Linked DNA regions of Homo sapiens. The protein of the gene in region 1 purifies or fractionates together with the protein of each later gene. This does not show direct contact. Each region holds a gene or a part of one and is shown on either strand. Other genes may lie near its edges.

Region 1 (3,500 bases):
AGTAGCTGGGATTGCAGGCATGCACCACCACTCCCGGCTAATTTTTGTATTTTTAATAGAGACAAGGTTTCACCATGTTGGCCAGGCTGGTCTCGAACTCCTGGCCTCAAATGATCTACTGGCCTCAGCCTCCCAAATTGCTGGAATTACAGGTATGTGTGCCTGGCCCACAAGGGTCTTTATAAGAGAAAGAAGGAAGCATGAGAGTCAGTATAAGAGAGATTTGAAGATGCTACACTGCTGGCTTTGAAGATTGTTTAAGGATCATGAGTCAAGGAATTCAGGAAGCCCCTAGAGGCTGGAAAAGGCACGGAAACAGATTATTCTTTAGAGCCTCTACAGGGATGCAGTCCTGCCAGCCCATTTTGGACTTCTGAACTTAGAACTGTAAGATAATAGATTGGTGTTGTTTTAAGCCACAGACTTCGTATAATTTGTTACTGCAGCAATAGGAAACTAACATGGAGTGTGAAACCTTAACATTGGATTTAGACGTGGCTGGATAGAAAAGATCAAAGCACTGCAGAAGATTATCTAATTGCCTAATACAGGTTGTAAAAAACATTTTAAAATGTTGCAAGTCAAAAAATCAAGTCTTAAAAGTTTGACCCGAATTATTTTCCTAAGATTTCAGACAAAGATGTCTAGGCCTCTGTGGCCCATTATGGCTCTGGGAGTAGAAAGTCCTCTGGTAAGGCATGTAGCTAGTGGTTAAAAATGAAGACTAAAGCCAGACTGCCTGAGTTTGAATCCCAGTCCCACCCTTGACTAACTGTGTGACTTGTGCCTCAGTCTCCTGATCTGTACACTGGAGGTAATAATATCCCCTTCAAAGGGATGTTTTAAAGATTAAAGATGAAATATATAGAACAATGCCTCAAGTTTTTAGAAAAATGCTTCTCACCTCATAAATATTTGTTGCTGTTGTTACTATTATTGTTTTTAATGACTGACAAGAGTGTCTTATGCAGAATAAATATCTCTTTGGGGACAATGAAACAATTGAAAGAATGGACAACTGAATTATTGTAACAGAGCAGTGACCTAGGCGAGACCAAGTATTAGGTTTACAAATCAGCCAGCTATCCGATGCTTAGCACGTCCTTGTCAAAGACCTTTGGAAACTACAGGGTTTTTACTCTTATGTTGGTCCCCATGAAGTCAGGGTCTGTGAAGGGTCTGGGATTTTACCCTACTTGCAAGCTAACGTGTTAGCCTATTACAGAAGACTGGAGACAACTACATCAGAGTCAGAGGACTTTATTACTCACAGCACAGCAAACAGCATGAGCGTGGTGGTGTTAATTCCCCATGTCCTCCAAAACTCACCGAGGTGACAAAGATGGGCACGGGCGAAATGAGTGCTATGCACTCAGTGGATTTGTGTCACAGTTGAGCAGCGTTGAGCTTAGGGAGCCTACTGCTTTTACAGTGGGCCATGAGCAAGGGGTGGGTTGTGGCAGGGGGAGAGGGTGGGAGCTACTCTCCTCGTAGTTGTTGTGTCCTGGTTGACCCACCCCAAAATGGAGATGTCAGACCTGGGAGTTACAAGCCTCCATGGGTTCATTTTTAACAAGAGCTCAGCAGCAGACCAACGATTGCGTCCCCTTTTTGAAAGGGGTGTGTTATGGGTTGAAATGTGTCTCCTGTCTCCAAATTCATATGTTGAAGCCTTAACCTATAGTACTTCAGAATGTGATCTTGTTTGGAGATAGGGTCTTTACAGAGGTAATCAAGTTAAAATGAGGTCGTTAGAATGGGCCCCAATTCAGTGTGACTGATGGCTTTATGAGAAGAAGAAATTTGGATACAAGACCATACAATTCATACTGGACTATGCATACCGGGACCATACAATGTGAATATGAAGACAGCTGTTTACAAGCCAAGGAAGGGGCCTGGAACAGATGCTTCTCTCACAGCCTTAGTAAGGAACAAACCTTGCAGACACCTTGATTTTAGATTTCTCCCCTTCAGAACAGAGACAATAAATTTCTGTTGCTTAAGCCGTCCAGTTTGTGGTCCTTTGTTATGGCAGCCCCAGCAAACTAATACAGGATGTATTTGGTGCCTGTGCCAAGCAGGTGGTGCTGCTGCACTGGGCAGTGGCCTCACTGGAGCTTCATAGTGATTTTCTTTTCCTCCCTGGGCTTCTATGTTTCTATTAGACCACCTAGAAGGGGTCTGGGAATCCCTGACTGGGGAGTCTGTTTTGGTCACTGTGAGTTTTATAATACAAGCATGTAATACATCAATGTCATTGTACATTTGTATGTAGTGGGTAGGGAGAGTGTTGACACACATCACAGTATCTTGAATTGGCTATAAAGGTCCCTTTAATTTTTTTTTACTCATTGTGAAGTTTGCTTACACTCTATCAGTTGAATTCAGTTACTTTCCCCCACCTAGTCACAATATACATGTGATCAAGCATGATGACTCACACCTGTAATCCCAGCACACTGGGAGACCATGGCAGGATGATTGCTTGAGCCCAAGAATTCAAGACCACCCTGGGCAACATAGTGAGACTTCATCTCCATTTAAAAAATTTAAAAAATTAGCCAGGCATGGTGTTACACAACTATAGTCCCAGCTACACAGGACGCTGAGGTGGGAGGATTGCTTGAGCCCAGGAAGGTCAAGGCTGCAGTGAGCTGTGATCATACCACTGTACTCCAGCCTGGTTGACAGAGCGAGACCCTATCTCAAAAAACCAAAACAATAACAATAAAAGAACAGAGACAAAAGAGTTTAACATAGGTACTTCAAGGGTGGTCGTAATAGTTTCAAGAGATTATGCTGTCTCCAGCTAGGGGAGAGGGGCAGGGAGGGCTTTTTGTCCTTTGGCTCCTCGTCCCAGAATGGGTGCTGCTTCCTGTCCTGTGTTCTCTGGCCTCTGGAGAGAATGGCCACTCAGAGCCATCATTATTTCAGCCTTTGCTGGAGCCACTGCATGGCCTTGCAGTCTTTGGAGCTCTGGGCCACCCCAGTGCTTAGCATACTTGCCTTCCCTGAGACCAAGTAGACTTTGGCACTCGTGTCCAGTCCAACAGAGCCATAAAATTTTGAGTCCTTCCCTGCCCTGAAGTTCCCCAGCATACTTCCCTAAAGCAGAGGGAGTTGGAGGAGAGGCAGGGGAGGATTGGGGACTGGAGGGAGAGAGCCACTCAGTGCCAGTAAGCAAGGCTTTGTATTTACTTTATTTCAAGTGACCTCTGCCACTGGGCTCAACAGACAAGTTTCTGACGCTTTTAGTCTACCCACAGTTCTCTACCCTCATTGTTAACACCATTTATTTCAGCTCTGGGGACCCCTAGATTCAGCAGCCATCGCCACGTCGCCTTGTTTTTTGGCTGGATCGTGGAGCTTGCTGCCCCATTGTCATTGATAACATCCTCCCTTCTCCCACCCCAGAAGGGAGTATGACACAGCCAAAGCACCATTAGGACACCTTGTTTCAACCCTACCTTTTGTTGTTCAACCACATTTAACACATA
Region 2 (3,500 bases), on another chromosome or scaffold:
AGAAACTGAAGCTCAGCATAATTTGCCTAAGAAAACAAACCAGGTGAGAAGTGAAATGAGACTTTAAACCCAAGTCATTTGGTCCCAAATCTAGATTTTTTCTGAACCTGGTTTTTATTTACCTGACTCATATGATTTTTTTTTTTTTTTTCTGAAACAGAGTCTTGCTCTGTTGCCCAGGCTGGAATGCAGTGGTGCAATCTCAGCTCACTGCATCCTCCACTTCCCAGGTGCAAACCATTCTTCTACCTCAGCTTCCTGTAGCTGGGACTAGAGGTGTGCGCCATCATGCCCAGCTAATTTTTGTATTTTTAGTAGAGATGGGGATTCACCATATTGGCCAGGCTGGTCTCAAACTCCTGACCTTGTGATCCGCCTGCCTTGGCCTCCCAAAGTGCTGGAATTATAGGCATGAGCCATCACACCCAGCCGACTCAATTGATTTTAAGTGGGTATGATTATATATATATATATATATATAAAGGTAACAAAATTATGAATAAATATATGATTTACATTTATGTATGAAAGTACCTCTTCCGCCCCTCCACTGCCTTTCTTTATGAAGAGATTGCCTCATTTTTTCCTAGATATTTAGGTTCAGTAATGCAAACTTCAATGGATAATTCATTTGTGTTAAGCTTTAAAAATTGAATATATTAACAGAATAAATATTTAATAGCAGAATTTTCATATAAATATATTGTGGTATAGTTTGACTTTAAAAGCTTTAACCACATATAAAAGATATTCTACATATGCACATATAGATGTTAGCCCACAATGTTAAACCAAGTACCCATACATTTCTTAGATATTTGTAGTCCTGTCTTCTTGACATCTATATTAAAACTTAATTAATTGGCAATTGTTGCCTCGTGGGTTAGATACTTCGTTTAGATAAATTTTTCACCTGTGGCCAAATTGCCATTCCTAGGTTTGTCTGTGTTGAGATATATCATAAATTATGTTTTGATTCTAGCCAAAAGGCAACTTAGAAGCACACCAAGGTGCTGCAGGCTATCAGTAGCTCCTCTGTGCCTCCTGCCACTCCTATAGTATGGAAGACATTCTAGATAAGTCAAATAAAGGCTACTCTTGAGTCCAGCTTAAAACTTTTCAAAAAGCCTTAATACTCAGACTCTATTTCATGAGATTGCTTACTGACAAAGTGGAATGCTTGGGTCTTGTACTTGGGTCTGAGCTTGAAGAAGTATAATGCAGTCTGTAGCCTTATAGAGATAAGCCTTCTCTTTTGCAATAATGGTATCCTGATATTTAGGTTTAATAATAGGAGCACCTTATTATTTATTGAATGACTACTATATTCTAAAAACGTGGCTAGGTATTCTATATATATGTTCTTTGACTCATCATAATCTTGCAGAGAATGTGGTTTTATTCTCATTTTATTGCATGTGTAAGATAACTGCAACCCACAGAGGTTTAGAAACTCACTCAGGGTTGCTTAGTTCATAAGTGGAGGAGCTAGTCTGAACCTAGGTCTGATCCTGCCAGCTGTGCTCTTTGTGAGCTGCTGTGAACTTACAGTCTTTAAGGAGATGGGAATGTTTTACTAAGTGTTTTGAGTGTATTTGGAATATTAATAAGTTCTTATGGAAACAAAGTTTGGGTGTACATGGAACCAGGAGTTTTTCAGAGCTAAAAGAAGGTAGTACATTTTATTTAAATAAATTGTCAGAAAGAGAAAAGGGCTAAAAACAAAGCTGAAAATGTGATAGAAACCTAGAATTTTTATTTCTAGGAGGGTTACTCATTCAAGCCAGTCTTCTTATTATCTTTGAGGAAACAGAGGCTTATGAGTCAAGTATGTCATTTACCCAGAGCTTTGACCACATCTCCTGTCTTCTAGTCCTGTGCTCTTTCCACTGTAATATGCTATTACCTTTAGATTATGATCTTAATGGCTGGGGGAATGGACAGGCAAAAGAATGGAAGCTGTTAGTGAGCAGGTTGTTGAGATGAATGGTTGGAGCAGGTCTAGTTTGATTGCTTCCCTGCGTGAGATTGGATAAGTTCTGAGTTGAGGTATCAGGCTATGCAAGAATTTGTAGTGCAAGGAAACTTGTAGTTTGATATTAATGTTTTATACAAATAGATTTTGACACATACAAATATGTGTCAGTGACATTTGAGGCGATGGTTAATATTCTGCACAGGAAAATGAGGCTGTTGTATTTACATTTTTTAAAGAAAATAACTATTTTCAGTAAAAATTAAATAAAGTTCTAGGTGCAGGTACTATTTTAAGCTCTGGGAGCCCAAGATGGAGAAGATACTCTCCATGCCCTTGAGGAATGTATATATTCTAGTACCAGGATAGATGTATATATAAATGAGTACAATACGTGTACCTTTTTTTAACCATAGGGGCATTATTACTTCAATATTACAGTTGTGAATTCTCTGGAAGCTTCTCAGAGTAGTTGGTATGTAATAAATGTTCCCAGTTTGAGTGGGGTCCTTTCACTATGAATGCAAACATGGATGACGGCAGTGTGAATATCAGCTCAGTAGCACAGACTGAACAAATGTCTTCTATGTAGAAGGAACTGGGCTGGATTCTGGGACACACCAAGCCGGTGACACACAGCCTGCTCTCACTGAGTATAGGACTCAAGAGGGGAGAATACACAACTCACTGTAGTGTGTCAGACAAGTTAGGTGCTGAAGGGACACAAGGTACAGCAACAGCACAGAGTGGAGAGCCTGGTGTGGGGTTTGGGGAGGGTGATGGGGTCATAGGAATGTAGGGCTGAGGAGCTCTGCGTAGATAGAGAAGGTAACATTCGACGTGAGCCTAAAGGGATGATTAATATTTTTCAAAGAGAAGCACATCAGAGGCACAGGGAACATTAGGAAAATGGTAAATGTGACCAGAGATTAAAAAGCATAGCTTTTTAATTGCTGAAGATGGGGTTGAGAAAGCATCTGGGGACCCCATTGTGAAGGGAGTGGGATGTTATTCAGAGGGAATATGAAGTAATGCTTTAAGCTGGGTAATGACATGATGCCTGTTTCAGAAAGAGAAGACTAGTTTGGAGATGGTTATAATATTCCAAATAAGGGATCACGTGTCCCTGAAGAAGCACAGAAGGAAGAAATGAGAGACTTTTGCCAAAATAGAGTTCAGATAGGAGCAAGGGGTTGGAAGCATTGAAGATAACTGAGGATTCTATCAAGGGTGACTGAGGAGGAGGAGAAGCAGGGCAGCAAGTGTTGGGCTTGTTACAGACATCATGAAATTGAAGACCTTGCCTTTGTAGGCCTTCAGTGTGAAGATGATTAGCAAGTAGCTGGAGATGTAGGTATTGGTACAGGGGAGAAGTCAGGTGTTTCTAATTATTTAGAGAGCTAAACCAGCTCATAGAAAGTAATTGAAGCTCCAGGACAGAGTAGATTACTGGGGAGGGTAAAAAGTAAGACGAAAAATATGCTAGTCAGAAACTTGAGGAACACTGTGATTAAGGGACAACCAG

Evidence for each region.
Region 2: the proteins of PLGRKT (region 1) and FAM204A purify together in Homo sapiens (affinity purification with mass spectrometry; one large-scale study listed by BioGRID and IntAct). This does not show direct contact.

The regions. Positions count from the first base shown.
Region 1 is NC_000009.12:5,427,926-5,431,425, reverse strand, and holds part of PLGRKT (plasminogen receptor (KT)), read left to right. Parts: intron 1-3,500. UniProt on the Homo sapiens protein: Receptor for plasminogen. Regulates urokinase plasminogen activator-dependent and stimulates tissue-type plasminogen activator-dependent cell surface plasminogen activation.
Region 2 is NC_000010.11:118,328,825-118,332,324, reverse strand, and holds part of FAM204A (protein FAM204A), read left to right. Parts: intron 1-3,500.